7 linked regions of the Homo sapiens genome follow. The protein of the gene in region 1 purifies or fractionates together with the protein of each later gene. This does not show direct contact. Each region holds a gene or a part of one and is shown in the gene's direction. Other genes may lie near its edges.

Region 1 (2,453 bases):
ACCCGGCATCTGGGGACGGCAGAGGGTATCACACGGCGAGAGGGCAAGAGCGTGTATGTCGTTTCAGGCCTCTCTTCCTATTCTTATAAAGCCACCAGTCGCATCCTGGGGGTCTCACCCCGATGACCTTATCTAATCCTAATTACCGTCTCAGAGGCTGCGCCTCCAATCAACATGTGAATTTGGGGATTAAGTTTCCAAGACACACAATTTGGGGGATGCACTCAAACCACAGCAACATCATTAGCCATTTGGGAAATACGAATGAAAACCACCATGAGATAGCACTTGACACCCAGTAGGATGGCTACTGTAAACAAAACAAAATGAGGCAAACAGAAAACAGGTTTTGATGAGGCTGTGAAGAAATTGGGACTCTCATGCACTACTGTTGGGAATGCGAAAGATTACAGCTGCTGTGGAAATCAGTTTGGTGGTTCCTCAATAAGTTAAACAGAATTACCACACGAGCCAGCAGTTTGACTGCTAGAAATAGACCCAAAAGAACTGAAAAGAGATATTCAAAGAAAAACCTGTAGAGAGATGGTCATGGCAGTGCCACTCACAATAGCCAGAAGGGGGAAATAACCTGTCCATCAACTGACGAGTGGGTAAACAAAATGTGGCCTCCTATTCATACAACAGAATCGTACTCAGTCATTCAAAGGAAGGAAGTAGTGATTCATGCCTCTACATGGATGCACCCTGATGAAACCATTACGCTAAGTGAAAGCAGCCAGACACACACGGCCTCACATTTGGTCGTATAATTCCATCTATAGGAAATCTCCAGAACAGGCTAACCTCTATGGACAGAAAGCAGATGGACTAGGGGTTGCCAGGGACTATCGGGAACGTGTGTATGGGCGGGGGCAGGGGGTGTGTGTGGGAGGGTGTGGGGGCTGGTAGTGGTGGTGTGGAAGGAGGCGTGCGGCAAGTGACTGCTTATAGGTACAGGGGTTTCGGTTTCTTTTCGGGGTGTTGAAAACGTTTTGGAACTAGGTGGTCGTGATGGATGTGCAACATTGTGAAGGCGTGGTACCCGTCCTCCCCTCGCCCACCCCTTTGTCTTTCCCACGGTGTTCCCATCCAGTAGAAAGGGAAAGTTCCCACTGGCAAAGAGAGGGTCACCAGCGCGATTCCCCCTGCCCCGCCCCACCCCACCCCCACGGCCCTCCAGCCACTTCTAGGCCCAGGCCTGCTCCCTCGAGGCCAATGGGAAAGTGATGAGGTCACCTGACGGACGTGTGTCCCTTGTGAGGGGCCGTCACCACATGCGTGCCCGTCGCCGGATGTGCGTGCCCATTGGTCTCGGCTCCCTAGCCAATGAGGGGCTGGGCCCTGGTCGCTAGGATACACAGTACTGGACGCGGTAACTGTCCTCTTGAGAGCCATCTTGCCTAGCTGGGCCAAGCCGAGATAGCACACTCAACGCCCAGCATGCCGAGGAGGAGGAGACGCCGAGGGTCCTCCGGTGCTGGCGGCCGGGGGCGGACCTGCTCTCGCACCGTCCGAGCGGAGCTTTCGTTTTCAGTGAGCCAGGTGGAGCGCAGTCTACGGGAGGGCCACTACGCTCAGCGCCTGAGTCGCACGGCGCCGGTCTACCTCGCTGCGGTTATTGAGTACCTGACGGCCAAGGTCCTGGAGCTGGCGGGCAACGAGGCCCAGAACAGCGGAGAGCGGAACATCACTCCCCTGCTGCTGGACATGGTGGTTCACAACGACAGGCTACTGAGCACCCTTTTCAACACGACCACCATCTCTCAAGTGGCCCCTGGCGAGGACTAGCTTCTGACACCCGGCCCCTGGGACCTGACAGGTCCACTCGTCCACCCACCCGGCCCCAAATCCCCCGGCCTGAACCCCCGGCCTTAAACACCCTCCCCCCACAACCCAGGCCCCAAAGTCTTGGGCCTTCATTAATTCTGTCAATAAAATGTTTCAAGGAAGCCATCTGCCCGCTTCAGTCACTTTGCCTTGGGGTGGGGGTGGGGGGGCGGTGAGATGGGTTGGGGGGTTGTGAGACCTCCACAGCTGGAGGGATGGAGAGGTGGTGGGGGTCTGGGGTTGGGTGGGAGCCAGGGATGGCACAGAGGAGCCGTCTCTCCGGGTGACAGTGCAGGGGAGTGGCCCTGGGTGGGAAGGGGACACCCCCGCTGGTTCTGAGCAAGTCAGGGCCTGCCCGGGAAAGTCCTCAGCATGATGGTGTTCGTTGGGGCGGGTGGGCCTCAAGACCATGACTGCAGTGTTGCGACAGGACGGACTTCTAAGGCAACCGGGGTGGGGACGGAGAGGTGGACCCGGTGCTTGGCAAGGGGCCCTGGACCGGAAGACGGAGGACTGAGTAGTCGGGGCGGGGGGGGGGGGGGGGGACAACAGTCCAGAAATGCGCAGACATGGAATTAGGGTCACGAGTTTCCTTTGGGTCATGTTCAGATGGAGAGGCTGTGGGA
Region 2 (2,968 bases), on another chromosome or scaffold:
GTGCACTCCAGCCTGGGCAACAGAGCAAGGCTCTGTCTCAAAAGAAAAAAAAAAAGAAAAAGAAATACATGCTGTTGGAATGGTTTTGAGACAGAAAACCCTAAAATACCCAGGTCTCTGGGATCCTGAAGCAGTGCTGCCCCTCAGCACTGCCGTCATGCCAGTCCACTTAGGACTTTGGCTGTCACCATATCTAACATTTTAAATAGTCTCCATTAGGTTTGCTGACTTTCAAGCAAGTGAAAAAAAGATAATCTCCATAAAGTATTTTATATATTATACTTTAAGTTAATAGGTTCACAGTTCACACATTTTGTGTTAGAGTCCCTTCTGGCTTCCCATTGAATGTATTATCTCTTTTCTAGCCTGTACCAGAGATTAAAGTTGTGTCAAATCTGCCAGCCATAACCATGGAGGAAGTAGCCCCAGTGAGTGTTAGTGATGCAGCTCTCCTGGCCCCAGAGGAGATCAAGGTAAGAAGCCAATGTTGAAACCTTAAATGTCTGTTACAAGTTAGTTGATCATAGCCAGACTCCATTTATTTGACGTCATTTGCCTTGCACTTGTAGTTCTTATTCCAATGTATCTCAGCAGTTTCTAAGTATAAGCAAACTAGTAATGTTATAATATTCAAATACCAGTCTCCTATATTCTGGCTTTATTATGAGGTACAGGTTTGAGAGTTACTGTAAGAGCAGTTTTAAAATAGCTAGTATCAATATCTTATTATAATCCAATCTGAATACTAGCAGTGATGTTAAGTTGAAAACAAATGGCTTGCATTGCATATATACTAGCAATAGTTTAGTGTCAGCATTTCCCCCTTATTTTATTCATGTAATGCTAATTAGTAATGGAATCTGAATCTAGAATCGAGCATTTGGTTATCAGAAGAGGCTAGATATATCAAATGCAGCAATCCCTGCCATGTGAACATTGAAGCTTATGCCTTACACAGTAATAATGGTTTCTGCCAGGTGCTCATCTTCCTGGCTGGCTTAGCAGCAGGGCCTTCTTTTTCCCTCCTCACTTGATTTGCTACACCTACACTCACCCCTTCTGTCTGAGCCTCTGCCACCTCAGTGCAGGTGACAGCCCTGGCAGGATAGGCTGGCAGCTGAGGAGAAAAGAGATAGAATTGATCCTCACTAGAGAGATGTTTCCCTTCCCTTCCTCTGTTCCTTGGTCTCTGCCCTCTGGCCTCAGTCCAGTTGCTGTCATTAGCAGCTCAGAGCTGAGGCTGCCTCTGGCATGTCCCTGAAGCCCATTGGAATCTAAATGCTGTGGAGGGCTGGCTCCTCTTGTGCTGTTAGGTTGAGAACCCAACTCTCCATGTTGCCTTCTTGTGAATTAGTTTGGGAACTGAACCGTCACTATAAGAGTCTGTGCCTGTCAAAGAATGCATTTCAGGTTTTAAAGAGCTGAGTTACCAACGCTCATTGGAATGCAGGTGGGGATTGCTCTGCATCTTTGTGCATTTGGCCACAGATGCACAGCCTGCTTGCTGGCTACCCTGCAGTTTCTTCCATTCCAGTTTCCTAGTTGTTAAACTTGATGAATGAATATGTTGGTGGTTATTTTTTTAATAGGAGAAAAATAAAGCTGGAGATATAAAAACAGCTGCTGAAAAAACAGCTACAGACAAGAAACGAGAGCGAAGGAAAAAGAAATATCAAAAGCGTATGAAAATAAAAGAGAAGGAGAAGCGGAGAAAACTGCTTGAAAAGAGCAGTGTAGATCAAGCAGGGAAATACAGCAAAACAGTAGCTTCGGAGAAGTTAAAACAGCTGACCAAAACTGGCAAAGCTTCCTTCATAAAGGTAAGGACAAGGGAAAGAAAACTGCTCAAGGGGACCTTTGTGGGGGAAGTGGATAGCAAGTGCTGGGTGACTGGAATGTCTGAGCCAGCTGACAGCCCACCTGCGGGATAGAGATGCATGATGCTGACTGGCTGGAATCGCAACCTTTAATGTTCTAGAATTTTTCATGTAGGGTCCTCACAATAACCTGGGTCCTGGCAGCAGCTTGTCTTCCACTCCTTTCTCTCTTAGATTATAAGAACATTGTAGCAGTGCAGAATACCTCTATGCTAACTGATTCAGTTTTCTGTAATTCTAGTCCTTTTTCATATTTATGGTTGCATACATTGTTGTAATGGTGATGTACTATTTTTGGCTTTTTTCACTTATAAGTACATTTTACAGCATAAGCATGTGGTGTTTTTAATTGCAGGATGAAGGTAAAGACAAGGCCTTAAAGTCCTCTCAAGCATTCTTTTCTAAATTACAAGATCAAGTAAAAATGCAAATCAATGATGCAAAGAAAACAGAAAAGAAAAAGAAGAAAAGACAGGATATTTCTGTTCATAAATTAAAGCTGTAATATATTTTGAATATAATGTAAATATTAATGTGTAAGCTTATATTGTGTCATTGTTCTGTTTTATAATAAAATTCTTGAGAACCTTCCTTTGCATCGATGACAGATATTTGAGGGTTCCATAGTGTGAAAAGACAAACCCCTAACCATTTGCAAAGCCCTTCCGGTTTTCACTGGTATGAAGCAGGACCTGGCTCCTCCCCAGGCCCTTCCTGTTCAGGCACTGCCTGAGCTGATCCTGCTGTGCTCTTGCCGTGGCCCAGGCCTGTGTGAAGGCCAGGCCAGCTTGTCCACATGGGCTGGTGAGCAAGCACTGGCCTGCAGGCTGTGAAGAGGACAGAGCCAGCCAACCCCCTCACAAGCAGCTGTCTACAGCAGAGGTCCTCACTCTTTGGGCTCTTGATTTCCTTCTCCCATTGCCCTGTCATTTCATAAAACAGTAGCATTTTCATGCCTGTGCCTTCCTTCCCCTTTGGGAAATGATCTCATGTCATCTGAACAAAGGTTTAATGTAGGCTGTAGAGCACTATCCACAATCAGCTGCAGAGGACAGGTATGATGGAGAAGTGAATCTAGAAGCAACAGAAGC
Region 3 (3,500 bases), on another chromosome or scaffold:
AGACACTAGGCATAGATGATTCTTTTTTTCTTTATTTTTTTCTTTTTGGGATAGGGTTTCGCTGTGTCACCCAGGCTGGAGTGCAGTGGCACGATCTTGGCTCACTGCAATCTGCCTCTCAGTTCAAGCAATTCTCCTGCCTCAGCCTCCCGGGTAGCTGGGATTACAGGTGCTCACCACCATGCCCAGCTAATTTTTGTGTTTTTAGTAGAGATGGGGTTTTGCTCTCTTGGGCGGGGTGGTCTCGAACTCCTGACCTCAAGCAATCCACTCACCTCGGCCTCCCAAAGTGCTGGGATTACAGGCATGAGCCACTGCGCCTGGCCTGAAGATTGTTTTCTAAAATATTCATTCATCTCCTTATTTCTGTAAACTGTGAGCATTTGCTATATGTCAGAATGGTAGCACACACTGTAGATGTAACTTTGCTCTATGCCCGTCTGTCTGTCTGTCTGTCTCTCTCTTTCTCTCTCTCTCTCTGTCTCTCTCTCGCTGTGTACATGAAGAGACTGGCTGGCTGGGTGTGGTGGCTCACGCCTGTAATCCCAGCACTTCGGGAGGCCGAAGCGGGCAGATCACGAGGTCAGGAGTTTGAGACCAGCCTGGCCAACATGGTGAAACCTTGTCTCTTCTAAAAACACAAGAATTAGCTGGGCATGGTGACGCGCTCCTGTAATCCCAGCTACTTGGGAGACTGAGGCAGGAGAATTGCTTGAACCCAGGAGGTGGAGTTTGCAGTGAGACAGGATTGTGGCACTGGATTCCAGCCTGGGCGACAGAGCAAGACTCTGTCTCAAAAAAGGCTGACTAAATATTGATTATCAATTCTGTAAAAAATGAGTCCTAAATATATAATTCTGAGTAAATTTTCAGAAGTAAACTTCTTACTTAGACAAAACTGTTCCTAAAGCATGGTTTTTAAAGTAATTAAAATATGGAGTTTCAAAAAACATTTTTTCCAACAGGTGGGAAGGAGAAACCAAAAACAAATATAGAAGACTTACAAATTAAAAAGGTAAAGAAGAAAAAGAAAAAGAAACACAAAGAGAATGAAAAACGGAAGCGTCCGAAAATGTATAGCAAATCTATTCAGACCATCTGCTCAGGATTGCTAACTGATGTTGAAGATCAAGCAGCCAAAGGCATCCTAAATGATAACATAAAAGATTACGTTGGGAAGAATTTGGATACCAAGAACTATGATTCCAAAATTCCAGAGAACAGTGAGTTTCCATTTGTCTCATTAAAGGAGCCACGAGTTCAGAATAACCTCAAAAGGTTGGACACTTTGGAATTTAAACAACTCATTCATATAGAGCACCAGCCTAATGGAGGTGCATCGGTTATCCATGCCTACAGTAACGAACTCTCCCACCTGTCTCCTATGGAGATGGAGAGGTTTGCAGAAGAGTTTGTGGGTCTAGTGTTCAGTGAAAATGAAAACTCTGCAGCTTTCTACGTGATGGGTATTGTTCATGGGGCAGCTACTTATTTACCTGACTTTTTAGACTATTTTTCATTTAATTTTCCCAATTCACCAGTGAAAATGGAGATATTGGGAAAGAAAGATATAGAGACAACGACTATGTCCAATTTTCATGCTCAGGTAAGAGGTTTTTAGTTTTATAAAATAACTTTTAATTATATATTTTTAGATGAGTTTCTGTTTTTTGTTCCTAATTATAGGGCTGAAATAAAAAGGTAAGAATATAATGAAACCATTTGGGAGTATTAAGAGTAAATTACTTTCTTGATGTGAGCATCAGAATTTAAAATTCAATTTTCACTTATGTATGTTTTTTTTTAAAGACAATTAATGAAATAATTAAGATTCTGTGTTTTTTTTTTTTTTTTTTTTTTTTTGCAAGGAGTGGTCTTGAACCTAAGGAAATGAATTTAGCCATGTATTTTCCAGTCCTTAAATAGTTTTCTTACCTGGAAATCACCTAAAATTGTCTTCTAGCTTTAGGATGCTTTAAGGTACTTAGCACCAGGCCCATCACATGGTAGGTACTGAAGAAATGTTGGCCATTAAAAATATTGTGGTATGAAGGAATCATCAGTTACTGTGTAATGATGTGTTAAAAGTAGCAATCAGTATATTGAGCTAATTTTCATTTCCTACCCTTCTCTATGGTGGAGAATATATATTATTCTGGAAAGCAGACAGAATAGAGTCTGCTGGGTCTTGAACATCAGTGTGGGCCCATCTGAAAGGCTGGTGCCATTATCACCCATCCTCAGATTGGGACTGTTTAGTCTGGAGATTGGCCAGTTCTCACATTTATTGATGCTGTAGTTTTTGGTTTTCTAGGAACGGTTTTTGGTTTCTAGGACAACATTCTAGTTTGGAAGGAGGGAAAAAGTAAAGGAAGTCTCAAATGGATCTTAGTGATTATTTATCCCAACACCTCTCAATTTACAAATAAGTAAACAGACGTAGAGAGAGAGGAGTAAGGTATTGTTTAACATTGTCAGCAGTGTCAGGATTAGAACAAAATCTTAATCTTCATCCAGGGCTCCTTTCCTTATTCTGAATATGTTCCTTTTTGGATGGGTGCTCAAGTTATAGTTTCCACTTTAAATGGTAGTCTGGATGTTCAGTCACATCCACATGTACCCCGCCCCCAATAGTATGAGTATGTTTGGTGTATATTCTGTAGTAGATTGTAGTCTGGAAAATAATGTGGTGTTTTTTTGTTTTTTGTTTTTTGAGATGGAGTCAGACTGGAGTGCAGTGGTGCGACCTTGGCTCACTGCAACCTCTGCCTTCCGGGTTCAAGCGATTCTCCTGATTCAGCCTCCCAAGTAGCTGGAATTACAGACATGCACCACCATGCCTGGCTAATTTTTGTATTTTTGGTAGAGACAGGGTTTCGCTATGTTGGCCAGGGTGGTCTCGAACTCCTGACCTCAAGTGACCTGCCTGCCTTGGCCTCCCAAAGTGTGGGGATTACAGGCGTGAGCCACCTCGCCCGGCCTGGAAAATAATTTTTAATGTGCGTATGTGGGAATTATTCTCTAACATGTTTGAGAATTGAAAATTAAATATTTTCTAAACTAGATAGGGAGCTATAGAGCATCCATTACTAGCCCTGTCATTTTATAGAAACCCAAAATGGTGAGTTACTTGTCTGAGGTTACACCTGAATATAATGGCAGAATCAGGACTGGCATCTAATAATAGTGTTTACTATTTATTGAGTACTGACTGTGCCAAGGACTAGTTGTTCTGAGTATTTTATATGTAGTAACTCATTTAATCCTCATTATAATCTTACTTTAGCAGTGAAGAAACAGATCCAGTGAGAGAAGAGATAACATGTTCAAAGTGCCTTATCACCTTATCATTCATTTGTCGTTTATTGCATGTCTCCTAAATGTCCGGTTTTCTATTGGGCCTCTTGGCTCCCATTCCCGGTTATTTCCACAATACCACAAACTTTCTTGCTTTGATACTATGCAAGTTTGCTTCAGTAACCTTTTAAATGTGACAGTAC
Region 4 (3,500 bases), on another chromosome or scaffold:
CCTGTCTCTCCTAAAAATACAAAATTAGCTGGGCGTGGTGGCGTATGCCTGTAATCCCAGCTACTTGGAGGCTGAGGCAGGAGAATCGCTTGAACCTGGGAGGCGGAGTTTGTGGTGAGGCGAGATCACGCCATTGCACTCCAGCCTGGGCAACAAGAGTGAAACTCCATCTCCAAAAAAAAAAAGAATGTAAGAATGTAAGCATGAACATATAAGACTTGGAGATTAAATAGAATGCAGTGGTTTAGAGACAAACACCAGAGTTAGACTGCCTGGATTTTAATCCTGGTCTGACTTTTCATTTGTATGACATTCGGTAAATTGCTGAACATGGCTGTACCTCGATTTCCTCTTTGGTTAAATGGAAGCAGTAGTATCATCTTTGGAAGGTTGTTGTGAGGACTAAATGCATTATAACATCTAAGAAAAGCAAGCAGAGATACTCAGCACTGTAAGCCTCCTGATAGTGTGGCTGGCAAATCTAGAGCCATAAACCACGATTAAGGCCAGAAAATTTACTTTACTCTGAAGGATTTCATAAAGAATCTAGGGTTTTATTTTCTCTCTCTCTTTTTTTTTTTTTTTTTTTTGAGATGGAGTCTTGCTCTGTGGCCCAGGCTGGAGTGCAGTGGCACAATCTTGGCTTACCGCAACCTCCGCCTCCCGGGTTCAAGCGATTCTCCTGCCTCAGCCTCCTGAGTAGCTGGGATTACAGGTGCACACCACCACGCCTGGCTAATTTTTGTATTTTTAATAGAGACGGGGTTTCACCATGTTGGTCAGGCTGGTCTCCAACTCCTGACCTTGTGATCCACCCACCTCAGCCTCTCAAGGTGCTGGGGTTACAGGCTTTAGCCACTGCACCTACCCTCATGATTAGTAGATCACAGTGAATAAAATTAGCAGATCTGTTATACATTTTAATGAATGCTTATTAAACACATCTCTTTGGCAGTGCACCTCCTGATGAGCTGGGTTAGCGTAGGGGTGTGAGGGCCGGGCCAGCTGCTTTGATTGCTGCTTTGACAACAGTATTTTCCCTTGTCCCTCATTGATCCCGGTAAGAGGAAAGTTGTGCCTTTCCTTTGTAAAGTGGGAGGGGATACCCGGGAAAGGACGGCCAGATTGGTGCATAAGTCAGACTCCGAGCAGTTTCAGGCATGAGTGCACGTGAACAAATAGATAGAAAGTGATTCCTCAAGGCCTGGCGGTGCTCACGCATCCTTCTTGATACCTGCATGCTGAGAAGGTAGAGACGCTCACCAGGTGATTCTTCTGCCCTCTCAAGGCTGAGAGAGCTGCTCTGTGAGGGCACGGCGTGGTGCTTCAGGATGTGGCCTCTGCGTCATGTCTGCCTGGGCTTCGGTCCCATCGCGGGGGCTTCCTGGGTGTGCCTTATCAGTGTCGTCCTCTGTAGTGAGTTCAGGCATCACAGCAGCTCTCTTATGGAGTGGCTGTGGGAAGGAAATCCAAGAATTCATGGAAAGCCTCCAGTCCAGCGCCTCGTCCCTCATACACTTGCAGTCGGTAGGAGCCGCTTTAAGCTGATAACTTCCTCTGTGATTTGTGATTGGAACATCAGCATTGAAAATGTTATGTGCCATATGAAGTGCAAAAGAGAAGAATTTACTGGTAGGATGTCTTTGCAAAAAATCCAAGGTGTCCCTGGGAAGTGGCTGCAGAAGAGAATGTTTCAGCTTGTGGAAATAATGAGCCCGTGCTGGGCTTTGCCTCAAGTGCGGAACATCTGCCTTCACGTTCTTTCGAGCCTGCTGTATAGTTCCCATAGGGAACTATACCTTTGAAATAAGTGACTCCTGGGAGGGGTTGCAGTGCAGTCACATGTTGTTGAATGGACACGTGCTTGTTTCGCTCCACTGTCAGGGTGAGAGTTTCTTTTTTTCCAATTTCTCTTATATCCTCTGAAGAAGGTTGGTTTGTTGGATTTTTTTTTTTTTTTTTTTTGAGATGGAGTCTCGCTCTGTCACCCAGGCTGGAGTGCAGTGGCGTGATTTCGGCTCGCTGCAAGCTCTGCCTCCCAGGTTCACGCCATTCTCCTGCCTCAGCCTCCTGAGTAGCTGGGACTACAGGTGCCCGCCACCACGCCCGGCTAATTTTTTTTTTTGTATTTTTAGTAGAGACGGGGTTTCACCATGTTAGCCAGGATGGTGTCGATCTCCTGACCTCATGATCTGCCTGCTGCGGCCTACCAAAGTGCTGGGATTACAGGCATGAGCCACCGCGCCCGGCTGCTTTTTTTCCAGTTTCTCTAACCTCATATCTGAATGTTCTTAAAACTGTAGGAAAATTTAGTCTCTCTTCTGCCTATGATCGTTTCTGTGGCACTCTTCTGTCTGAACTTGACAAGCAGATACAGGTGAGAGAATGCAGGTGGCTAGCTAATTTATAATTGACTCTAACCCCAGATCAACCTGCTCTGATCAACCTTTCAGGCAAGGACCTACTTTCTGGCTCACATTTTCCCTTCCGTCAAAGGCGTTACCACTCGGATGTCTTCCTCAATGGTGTGTTCCTGCTCCTTTTGCCCTTCCAGTTGTCCTTCCCGAAACCCTGAAAAGGTGGCTTGGAGCTATTGCTGCTCCTCCATGCGTCACCTAATCGTCATCTCTGATCTGTATTTAGGTGATCATTTAACCTGTCTTACCTTTATTTACTTTTTAAAGGAACTTTTTATTTTGAAATAATTACAGGCTTGTAGGAATTCGCAAAATAATTCAGAGAGTCCTGAACGTCTTTCCCCCTGTTCTCCCAGGGTGGAGAGACATTACATTGCTGTGGCTTTTCGCAACCGGGAAGTTGACATTTGGTGTTACTGTCAACTGCACCACAAACCTTAGCCAGTTTTCATCATCTTTTTTTGGTCTCCATTCATTTGTACATGGGCGGATGGTTCTGTGCAATTTTATCACAAGTGCAGATTCATGCAGCAACCACAATGGTGAAGATACAGGATTGGCCACCACGGCACAGCAACCTCATGCCTCATCTTTGTATTTGTACCCACTGTACCTTCATCCTTGTCCCCTCGAAACCATTCATCTGTCCTCTCTCTCTGTAGTTTTGTCATGTCGAGAATGTTCTGTAGATGGAGTCATATGTTATGTTTGTAGATGGACCTCTGACTAAGCACAATGCCCTGGAGTTTGTTTTGGCCATTGCGGTGGCAGCGGCCGCCGCTCTTTACTGTGGAGTGGTATTCCACTGTAAGGATGGCCCAGGGGTTGCTCAGCTGTTCATGCATTCACACGTTGAAGGACTTGGGGGTGATTTTTGGTATTTTGCTATGATGAATAAGGCTAATGTGAACATTTGTGTCTAGGTTTTGTGTGAACACAAGTTTCCATTTCTTCCTCAAGGATTTTCTAAATTTCTGGAGGGCAGCCTGGCCTGATCCATAGTATGCAAATTAAGGAAATATTTCTAATCATTTGACTCCTAGAAAGAAAACAGAGATCCAGCAGAAGGGTGCTGTTGCAGAG
Region 5 (3,500 bases), on another chromosome or scaffold:
GGCTCACGCCTGTAATCCCAGCACTTTGGGAGGCCGAGGCGGGTGGATCATGAGGTCAGGAGATCGAGACCATCCTGGCTAACAAGGTGAAACCCCGTCTCTACTAAAAATACAAAAAATTAGCCGGGCGCGGTGGCGGGCGCCTGTAGTCCCAGCTACTCGGGAGGCTGAGGCAGGAGAATGGCGTGAACCCGGGAAGCGGAGCTTGCAGTGAGCCGAGATTGCGCCACTGCAGTCCGCAGTCCGGCCTGGGCAACAGAGCGAGACTCCATCTCAAAAAAAAAAAAAAAAAAAAAAAAAATACGTATATATATATACATATATATATATATATGTATATATATATACGTATTTTTTTTTACCCAATTTTGTTATTTAGGTTTACCAAAATGTGATTAGTTTCTTTTCTTTTCTTTTCTTTTTTTTCAGACAGAGTCTCACTTTGTCACCCAGGTTAGAGTGCAGTGGCTGATCAGCCTTCCAATTCCCAAGTAGCTGGGACTACAGGGGAGTGCTACCATACCAAGCTAATTTTTGTATTTTTTGTAGAGATGGGGTTTGCCATATTGCCCAGATTGGTCTTGAACTCCTGGGCTCAAGGGATCTGCCCACCTGAGCCTCCCAAAGTGTTGGGATTACTGGTGTGAGCCATTGTGCCCTGCTTGATTAGTTTATTTTTTATCCACTGTTCTGCAACTTTTTCCCTACTGAACGATATTTATAAGTTAATATATAGTTGTTCTCATTCTTTTGAATAATGCACTATTTAAATTTTTCATTATTATATAATGATACAGTCAGGTCTCTATATTTGCGGGTTCTGCACCTGCAGATTCAACCAAGCATGGATTGAAAAATCTTTTTAAAATAATAATAATATACCAGGCGAGGTGGCTCACGCCTGTAATCCTAGCACTTTGGGAGGCCGAGGCGGGCAGATCACTTGAGGTCAGAAGTTCAAAACCAACCTGGCCAGCATGGTGAAACTCCATCCCTACTAAAAGTACAAAAAATTAGCCTAGCGTAGTGGCACATGCCTGTAATCCCAGCTACTCAGGAGGCTGAGGCAGGAGAATCGCTTGAACCCGGGAGGTGGAAGCTGCGGTTAGCAGAGAGTGCGCCACTGCATTCCACCCTGGGTGACAGAGTGAGACTCTGTCTCAAAAACAACAACAACAACAACAACAACAAAAATACAGTATAACAACTATTTATATAGCATTTACATTGTGTTAGGTGTTACCAGTAATCTAGAGATGATTTAAAGTATATGGGAGGCCAGGCATGGTGGCTTATGCCTGTAATCTCAGCACTTTGGGAGGCTAAGGAGGGCAGATCACTTGAGGCCAGGAGTTCAAAACCAGCTTGGTCAACATGGTAAAACCCCATCTCTACTAAAAATACAGAAATTAGCTGGGCATGGTGGTGCACACCTGTAATCCCAGCTACTTGGGAGGCTGAGGCAGGAGAATTGCTTGAACCCAGAGGCAGAGGTTGCAGTGAGCTGAGATCATGCCACTGCACTCTTGCCTAGCTAACAGTGAGACTCTATCTCAAAAAAAATAAATAAAGTATATGGGAAGATGTATATAGGTTATACACAAATACTACACCATTTTTTATAAGGGACCTGAGCATCCTCGGATTTTGGTATCTTTAGGGGTCCTGGAACCAATCCCCCCCTCGATAACTGCAGTACATTAGAGACAACTACAGTACATTATTAATCTCCTGTTGATGGCTTCTTGACCATTCCAATTTGTTGCTGCCATGAACATCCTTGTACATAAATATTTGCACACTCATCTCATGCAGGTATTTCTAGAAGGTTAGTACCTCATGGTGGAATTTTAGCAAGCATTTTCTGAGTCTTGTTATTTGCTGGGCCCCCTGGTATGGACCTAGGCCCTGAATGTTGCCTGTCTTGTCTGTCTCTGGGCTTTAACCAGAGATTAATCTGTGAAGGAGCAAGGAAAGGAGGTTCCCCTGGGGTGGGGTTAGGTCTAAAATAGTCACAGTGCTTTCTCCCTCCTGTGCAGATCTGTGCTGTTCTGGCTGCTGTCACTGAGGTGATTCGCTCCCAGGGAGGGAAGGAGACGGAGACTGAGTACTTCGCTGCTCTGGTGAGTGGGTGCCACTGGAGGGTGGGTGTTCAGAGCAGCAGGTTATGCAAGATTTAGCGAGAAGATGAGTGCCCCTGGCATGTGGGGGTAGAGAAGGACAACCTTGACCAGGTGAAAGTGCTTCAGTTATTCTCAGGTGGCTTAGGAAGGCTGGTGGTATTTGCTACCTTTTAATTTTCTCTTTTCTTTTCTTTCTTTCTTTGTTTCTTTTTTTTAAAGAGACAGGGTCTCACTATGTTGTCCAGGCTGGTTTCAAATTCCTGGGCTCAAACCGTCTTGTCATCTTGCGGTGGCCTCCCAAATTGTTGGGATTACAGGCATGAGCCACTGCAACTGGCTACTTATTACTTTTTTTTTTTTTTTTTTTGAGGCGGAGTCTCACACTGTCGCCCAGGCTGGAGTGCAATGGCATGTTCTCAACTTATTGCAACCTCTGCCTCCTGGGTTCATGTGATTCTCCTGCCTCAGCCTCCCGAGTAGCTGGGATTACAGGTGCACACCACCATACCCGGCTTATTTTTTGTATTTTTTAGTAGAGAAGAGGTTTTACTATGTTGGCCAGACTTGTCTCGAACTCCTGACCTCGTGATCTGCCTGCCTCAGCCTCCCAAAGTGCTGGGATTATAGGCCTGAGCCACCAGGCCTGGTCTACTTTTTTTTTTTTTTGAAACAGAGTCTCACTCCGTTGCCCAAGTTGGACTGCAGTGGCACGATCCCAGTTCACTGCAACCTCTGTCTCATGGTATCAAGCAATTCTCATGCCTCAGCCTCCTGAGTACCTGGGATTACAGGCGTGCGCCACCACACCTGGCTGATTTTTGTATTTTTAGTAGAGACAGGGTTTCACCATGTTGGCCCGGCTGGTCTCGAACTCGCAACCTCAGGTGATCCCCCCTACCTCAGCCTCCCAAAGTGCTGGAATTACAGGTGTGAGCCACCATGGCTGGCCTACTTATTACATTAAATAAATAAATATATTTGTGTATGTATGTATGTGTGTGTGTGTGTGTATATGTGTATATATATACTTTTTATTTTGTTTTTGGGTTTTTTTGTTGTTGTTTGTTTTGTTTTGGAGACAGGGTCTCACTTTGTTGCCCAGGCTGGAGTGCAGTGGTGTGATCATGGCTCACTGCAACCTCCACCTCCTGTGTTCAAGTGATGATCGTGCCTTAGCCTCCTGAGTAGTTGGAATTACAGGCGCCTGCCACCATGCCCAGCTAATTTTTGTATTTTTAGTAGAGACAGAGTTTCGTCATGTCGCCCAAGCTTGTCTTGAGCTCCTGAGCTGAATCAGTTCTCCCACTTTGGCCTCCCAAAGTGCTGGGATTACAGGCATGAGCCACCATGCCCAGCCTGGTTATTACATTTTTAAAG
Region 6 (3,500 bases), on another chromosome or scaffold:
GATAAATTTTGTGTTGTGTTTTCTAGAATTTTCTAAATATTATTCAGATCTGAGTGTTCAGTAGACATTTTCTCAGAAATAAACAAGCCTGCCACTTCAAGGAGAACAACTGATAATTTGAGCATTCAAGTTGAAAATTAGAATTTTGGAAAATTTATGTGCCACTGTGAGCTTGACAGCTCTCTAATACTTAAAGACTTTTCTGGTGAGATCACTGATGATACTGATGTGTTTTTTTTTTTTTTTGTATAATGAATTGCATTAACATTTATATGGTATGTATAACTCACTGAACTAATATTTTCCAAATGACCAATTTATGGTTTTACAGAGACATACATGGATAAAAGTGCAAGATAGACTATGGGATTTTTTATGTACTAGGGCATGAAAAAGCTCATTGGTCTGGTCTCAGATGTCACATTTCAACTAATCTTGAAGAAACTACCACTTGTGGAGAATTCACAATTATATGGAAAAAAGAGGAGTATTGTAATAACCTTTTTAACTGCATATCGTTATGAGGCTAGATTTTCTTCATATATTTCAACCAAAACAACATATAGCAATAGATTAAATACAGAAGCAGATGTGAGAATCTAGCTGTCTTCTGTTAAGCTGGACGTTAAAGAGATTTGCAAAAATGAAGAAGTGTCATTTTTCTCACTAAATATTTTTGTTTTGGAAAATGCAATTTTTTATTAAAACGTTATTTGTGTTAACATAAGGTTGGTATTTTAATGAATTAATAAATATTTTTAAAATTTTTCTGATAAATGTTGTTAGGTAAAATCCACATAAAAGATCTTTGGAGTCCTCAATAATGTAATAGTGCAAAGGAATCCTGGGACTATGAAGTTTGAGAATTGCTGCTCTAAAATGTGAGCAGCAAATTTCAAACTTTTTTTTTTTTTGAGGGGTCTTACTCTGTCACTCAGGCTGGAGTGCAGTGGCAGGAGCATGGCTCACTGCAGCCTCAACCACCTGGGCTCAAGCAATCTTCCAGCCTCAGCCACCCAAATACCTGGGACTATAGGTGCCCATCACAACCCCCGGCTAATTTTTGAAAAAAATTTTTTTTAGAGACAGGGTCTCACCATGTTGCCCAGGCTGGTCTTGGACTCCTGAGCTGAAGCATTCCCCCCTTGTTCAGCCTCCCAAAGTCTTAGGATTGCAGATGTGAGACACCACGCCCAGCCTGAAGTACTTTCATATCAACTCATTTAATCTTCCAAACAATGGGGTGAGTTGTAATAATAGTACTTCTTTTTCCTTTTTTTTTTTTTTTTGAGACAGTGTCTCACTGTCACCCAGGCTAAAGTGCAATGACACGATCTCCAGTCATTGCAACCTCTGCCTCCTGCGCTCAAGTAATTCTCCTGCCTTATCCTCCCAAGTAGCTGGGACTGCAGGTACATACCACCATGCCTGGCTAATTTTTATATTTTTTGTAGAGACAGGGTTTCGCCATGTTGCCCAGGCTGGAACAGTACTTACGTAGTGTATTCTTTGTGACAGGCACTGCTCTGTTATATACTTCTCTGTTATATATACATTATTTCATGTTACCCTTGCAGTAAATTTTGAGGTAGTCCTTGCTTTACAGATGACCAAAGTAGGTACAGAGAGGTTAGCTAACTTTTTTAAAGGCCCTGCAGAAATGTCTAAAACCTTAAGAGCAGGTAGGACAGGATAAAATAGGTATTACCCGAACTTTTTTGACCGTGGAACCCTGTTTTTTTTTTGGAGACAGGTTCTTATTCTGTCACCCAGGCTGGAGTGCAGGAGCACAATCATTGCTCACTGCAGTCTCCATCTCCCAGGCTCAAACAATCCTCCCATCTCTGCCTCCCAAGTAGCTGGGGACCATAGGCGCACGCCACCACACTTGACTAATTTTTTAATTTTTTATAGAGACAAGGTCTCCCTATATTGTCCAGGCTGGTCTTGAACTCCTAGCCTCAAGTGATCCTCTTGCCTTGGCCTCTCAAAGTGCTGGTATTATGAGCCACCATGCCCGGTCCCTTTTTTTTTTTTTTTTTTAAATGTAACAGTTCTGACTGGGCATAGTCACTCAGGCCTGTAATCCCAGCACTTTGAGAGGCTGAGGCAGGAGGATGGCTTAAACCCAGGAGTTTGAACTTAGAATGAGCTATGATTGCACCAGTGTGCTACAGCCTGGGCGACAGATTGAGGCCCTGTCTCTCTCTCTCTTTTTTTTTTTTAGAAGCAATTCTTTGAACAGGATTCCTTGGAATACACTTTTAGAAATGCTGCATTAGTAAGAAACCAATGAGGGAAAAACATCAAAAACAAAACAAAGAAGTAATCAGTGATGGTTGACTAGTGCTGAAGGTGTTTAAGGTGTGTACAGAAAGTGGCTGCACGCAGTGGCTCACGCCTGTAATCCCAGCACTTTGTGAGGTTTAGGCGGGAGGATCGCTTGAGCCCGGGAGTTTGAGACCCACCTGGGCAACATAATGACACCTCTTCTCATTACTTTAAAAATGAAATAAAAGATAGGCCAGGCACGATGGCTCACGCCTGTAATCCCAGCACTTTGGGAGGCCGAGGCGGGTGGATCACCTGGTCAGGGGTTCGAGACCAGCCTGGCCAACATAGCGAAACCCCATCTCTACTAAAAGTACAAAAATTAACCGGGCATGGTGGGGGGTGCCTGTAATCCCAGCTACTCAGGAGGCTGAGGCAGTAGAGTAGCTTGAACCCAGGAGGCAGAGGTTGCAGGGAGCCAAGATTGTGCCACTGCACTCCAGCCTGAGCGACAAGAGCAAGACTCCACCAAAAAAAAAAAAAAAAAAAAAGAAAAGTTAAAAATGAAATAAAATCTGTACAGGAAAGTGACCGTTGGATTTGGCAGGATAGGGTCGTTAGTAATTTTCTTGAGCAGTTTCAGTGGAAAAGGGATAGAGTAGGAGCCTCCTTGGCATTGATTAAGGAGACAGTACAACAAGATAAGTGGATGCAGTCCAAATGGATGCTTTAACAAGTTTTGCTATAAAGAGGATCAGGATTAAGAGAGTTTTAAAGATGGGAGACATTAGGGCATGTTTACACTGTGGGAATAATATAGTAAGATAAATGTAGGGAGTTGAGATATTATACATGGAGAGGTGGAAAGTCTTAAATGCCTGGAGTTTTCTGTGTGCATACATATTCATACACATACACCCACATATATGTACACATGTGAGTCAGGAAAACTTTCCCTCAAGAAATGACATTTGCGCTAAGATCTGAAGGCTGAGTCATAGTTAACTGTGCATAGGAAGTGTATAAAAAGCAGCAAGAAGAGTGTAGTAGGCTGAGTAAACAGCGCAGGGAAGGCCCCAGGATAGAAGTGAACACAGTTGTTTATCCTGAGAGTAATGAGAAGCCACTAAAAGCTTAAGCATGGGAGAGACATTCTCAAATTGGCTTTAAAAAATGCTCTGCAGCACGGAGAAGGGGTTAGAGAAGGGCAGATGACCAGTTTGGAAGAG
Region 7 (3,500 bases), on another chromosome or scaffold:
GGCTATCACCTAACTCAGGGCAAGGTATTTTAGAAGATTTTTCAGGGACAGTAACCCTTAAGTTGAAACTTGAAAGATAACAAAGTGAATGTACGTGTGTGTGTTTGAAGTTTGGGGTTTGGAAAAGATTCCAGGCAAAGGCAGTAGCATGTGCCATAACATAGAGATCAAGGAAGCACATTTTCAGTTCGAGAAACTGTAAAAGATAAGAACATGGATGTGGAGTGTATTGAGATGAGGTTAGGGCAGTCAATTTCAAACTTGTTGGCCACTTTGCCCAAAAAGGAATGTATTTGAATTTACAACCCAGTACACACATATGTATAACTAGATGAAAAGTTTTGTAAAATAATATTTAATTATCTGCACATTGCTTTGAGGTTTTTTTGCTTTTGAACTTCTCTGTTCTCTTTTTATTAATGCTGGTCATGATCCTTTAATATAATTTCAGAAACAGCAATTTGAAAATCTCTGGGCTAGAAAAATACGCGGGGCCTTGAGATACATTGAGTCTTTCTAAGGACTGTAGCAAGTCATTAAAACATTTTAAACAAAGAATGAAATGACTGGATTTTAAATGTTTAAATTCACTCTGGTAGCAGTATAAGGAATGGATTGAAGAGAGGTAATCCTGGTTCAGGGGGACCAGTGAAGTAGCCCTTGCAGTAACTAAGGTGAGAAATGACAGCTTGAATTAGCACGTTGGCAGTGGAGATGGAGGGGAGTGGACAGATTAAAGTGATTTAGGAGGTAGACTCAAAATGATTTTGTGATGTATTTTATCTGAAGGGACGAGTACAGTGTTAATGATGACTCTTTTATGCCTATCTGTAAGGATCAGGCTTGTTGGAAGAAGGCTCAGCTATGGACACTATGAGTTTGATATTGTTATAGGGCATACAAATGAGGATTTGCAGGAGGGAGAGGGCTGTGTAGATCTGATGCCTAGAAAAATCTAGACTGGAGATAAGTATTTGACAGTTAATGGGCTCATGGGTAGTAGTTGGAGTGTGGGAGTGAACAGTCAGAAATAGAGTGGGCCCAGCCTGAATTCTATAGACCATTGCTTCTCAGACTTGAATGTGCATAGGAATCACCTGACATCTTGTTAAAATGTAGGACACTGGTGGGATCAGAGATTCGACTTTTGTTACAGGCTCCCAGGTGATGCCAGTGTTGCTGGTCTGTAGATCACTCAGGCTGTCAAATACGGAAAATGAAAATTTAAGGACAGGCTGAGGAAAAGAAGGTTACAAAATAATCTAGGAAAGATCAGCTAGAGAAGAGAAAAATAAGGTGTGTGTTGTTTTGAAATCTAAGAGTAGTGTTTAAAGGAGAGAAGAGCGTATCAACAAGAAGTAATTGATAGTGGCAAGCATGCACAAATGATGTAAGAGCAGAGAATGTCTATTGGATTTATCAACAAGGTCGTTGATGATCTTAATGGGAGTCCTTTCTGTGGCATTGTGGAAGTAAAAGCCAGATTGCGGTAGGGTGGCAAGTGAAACAGAGATTCAGAAGTGGAACATTTTCCAGTAGTTTTGCTGTGAAGATGAGGAAGAAAAATAGTGCCGTAGCTGATAGGGGTAGGGGAATTCACGAGAGGGTTTTTTGTTTTTAAGGTGAAGAGATTTGACCATGTTCATGCCCTGAGGGAAGCACCCAGTGAAGAGGAAATCAAAGTGGGCAAATCAAAGTGGGCCAAATTATGCTGCAGTAATAACCAACCCCCAAATCTTAATGGTTTATAACAAGCAAGGTTTGATTCTCTACCACATTACTAAAAGAAGCAAACCAGAATATCGGTTGACTGCCTAATGTCTACTGGAGAGGTTAGAAATTTAGGAAAGCAAGGTAAATTTCAGTGAAGGAGGTGGCCCTGAGGACATGAAAGGAACTGGACTGCAGAGCTCAGGTTGAGGGGTTAGCCTTTAAAATGCACTTCTTTTATAACAAGAAAGAAAAGAGAAAAGGATAAATTCTGATACAGGCGGGTTTAGGTTTGGTGATAACCAACTGAGGACCTTTTCTTAGGGCTTTTGTTTTGTGAAAAACTGCGTGTGAATGCTGAGGGCAAACAAAAGGGTGGTATTGGCCTGTTACAGAGAATGGGGAGACAGTGTGAAGTAGTTGCAGATAATTAGAAAGCTGATAACATAAATTTGATGGACATCATTTAGGGTTTCTTGCCAGGAACTGAAAACTAGAAGCAGGGTATTTGAGAATGTCCAAGAAAGTGGGAAATAATCAAAATTCTATGATAAAAGAAAATAGTCATGAAAAAAATGTGTTTTGAGATTCTCCAGGCAAGGAGTGAAATAAAGTGAAGCGTGGTAGAACTAGAAGAAGGTTGTTGAGGGGGAGAGAGGCATCCTACAAAAAGGCAAGATCCAAGTTTGGAATTAAGGTATGTTCTCTGCTACCTGCAGCATCCAGAAACTCATTGTGGGGAGAACATCATTAAAAATACAAATGTTTTTATTTAGAGTGTAAATTACATTTTCAAGGGCTAATCATACATGCTCATTGTAAAAGATTCAGCTGTTCATTCCTTCCATTGACAGACTTCTCTGGGGCACATACCATGTACCAGAATTATATCTGGCAGAGACACTGCAAGAAGTATAGGATATGGAGAGTGAATAACCTCTTTTCAAATTAATAGTAATAAAAACAAGATCCTACTACACAACTGACTTATTTAATACTTTGGTCATCTTTCCTGTTTATATACTTGCAGAAAGATCTACCCACTGTTAACCACTGGGTGTACTACAATTCAACTAATTCCTTATTGATTAGCAGATGCTTACTTGGTACATATGCATTGTGTAAGGTATCTTAAAGTCTACCAACTGATGTTGACTTTTTAATGAAAATGAATTTTGTTGTGATAGTTTGGACTGGAAGATTGTGTAGATCTGTTTATTTTCAGTAGACTGTTATGTTATCCAGTAATTCACCTTTTCCGGGGGCGTGAAATCTCATAAAATTAGAATAATCTTTTGTGCTGTTACGGGCAGGAAGTGGGCAATGTATTGTGAAATGTCAATCTAGGAAATTGTTTACTAAACAAAATATAGAGTAATGAGTTAACATGGAAAAGTGAGAACTGTAGGAATAGCAGATATAGGTTATATTCTAACTAAACAGATACATCAAAAAACCTTAAGAGGACTTTTAGTAGAGACATTTTATGTCCTGACAACTGAAATTAGCCACTCATTTTCACTTCAAAAAAGGAGGTAACATATAGTTCATTTGCTTTGCTTCTTCAGGTTTGTTGTTTTATCACTGATTTCTCATATTTATTACATTAGGTTATCCTCCTACCCATGTAAACTTATTTGAGCTTTCACAAAGCATGTAATACTGATTAGAATTAGAATGTCTTACAAAACCCTGTCTCTTGTCTTAAAGATGCTTATGTCTTGTTCTCCTGGGACACATACTCCTCTACCCACCCTGGGTTTTCAAACTTTATGTTAAACTTTGTTGTG

Evidence for each region.
Region 2: the proteins of H2AB2 (region 1) and MPHOSPH10 purify together in Homo sapiens (affinity purification with mass spectrometry, with the first as the bait; one large-scale study listed by BioGRID). This does not show direct contact.
Region 3: the proteins of H2AB2 (region 1) and RSBN1L purify together in Homo sapiens (affinity purification with mass spectrometry, with the first as the bait; one large-scale study listed by BioGRID). This does not show direct contact.
Region 4: the proteins of H2AB2 (region 1) and PINX1 purify together in Homo sapiens (affinity purification with mass spectrometry, with the first as the bait; one large-scale study listed by BioGRID). This does not show direct contact.
Region 5: the proteins of H2AB2 (region 1) and RRP12 purify together in Homo sapiens (affinity purification with mass spectrometry, with the first as the bait; one large-scale study listed by BioGRID). This does not show direct contact.
Region 6: the proteins of H2AB2 (region 1) and THAP12 purify together in Homo sapiens (affinity purification with mass spectrometry, with the first as the bait; one large-scale study listed by BioGRID). This does not show direct contact.
Region 7: the proteins of H2AB2 (region 1) and DHX36 purify together in Homo sapiens (affinity purification with mass spectrometry, with the first as the bait; one large-scale study listed by BioGRID). This does not show direct contact.

Annotation. Positions count from the first base shown.
Region 1 is NC_000023.11:155,379,347-155,381,799, forward strand, and holds H2AB2 (histone H2A-Bbd type 2/3), read left to right. Parts: upstream 1-1,362; 5' UTR 1,363-1,440; coding exon 1,441-1,788; 3' UTR 1,789-1,953; downstream 1,954-2,453. UniProt on the Homo sapiens protein: Atypical histone H2A which can replace conventional H2A in some nucleosomes and is associated with active transcription and mRNA processing.
Region 2 is NC_000002.12:71,147,634-71,150,601, forward strand, and holds the end of MPHOSPH10 (U3 small nucleolar ribonucleoprotein protein MPP10), read left to right. Parts: intron 1-365; coding exon 366-473; intron 474-1,589; coding exon 1,590-1,820; intron 1,821-2,232; coding exon 2,233-2,382; 3' UTR 2,383-2,468; downstream 2,469-2,968. UniProt on the Homo sapiens protein: Component of the 60-80S U3 small nucleolar ribonucleoprotein (U3 snoRNP). Required for the early cleavages during pre-18S ribosomal RNA processing. Part of the small subunit (SSU) processome, first precursor of the small eukaryotic ribosomal subunit.
Region 3 is NC_000007.14:77,748,459-77,751,958, forward strand, and holds part of RSBN1L (lysine-specific demethylase RSBN1L), read left to right. Parts: intron 1-965; coding exon 966-1,606; intron 1,607-3,500. UniProt on the Homo sapiens protein: Lysine-specific demethylase that specifically demethylates methylated lysine residues of proteins.
Region 4 is NC_000008.11:10,826,376-10,829,875, reverse strand, and holds part of PINX1 (PIN2/TERF1-interacting telomerase inhibitor 1), read left to right. Parts: intron 1-3,500. UniProt on the Homo sapiens protein: Microtubule-binding protein essential for faithful chromosome segregation. Mediates TRF1 and TERT accumulation in nucleolus and enhances TRF1 binding to telomeres. Inhibits telomerase activity. May inhibit cell proliferation and act as tumor suppressor.
Region 5 is NC_000010.11:97,394,841-97,398,340, reverse strand, and holds part of RRP12 (RRP12-like protein), read left to right. Parts: intron 1-2,039; coding exon 2,040-2,123; intron 2,124-3,500.
Region 6 is NC_000011.10:76,371,133-76,374,632, reverse strand, and holds part of THAP12 (52 kDa repressor of the inhibitor of the protein kinase), read left to right. Parts: intron 1-3,500. UniProt on the Homo sapiens protein: Upstream regulator of interferon-induced serine/threonine protein kinase R (PKR). May block the PKR-inhibitory function of DNAJC3, resulting in restoration of kinase activity and suppression of cell growth.
Region 7 is NC_000003.12:154,317,988-154,321,487, reverse strand, and holds part of DHX36 (ATP-dependent DNA/RNA helicase DHX36), read left to right. Parts: intron 1-3,500.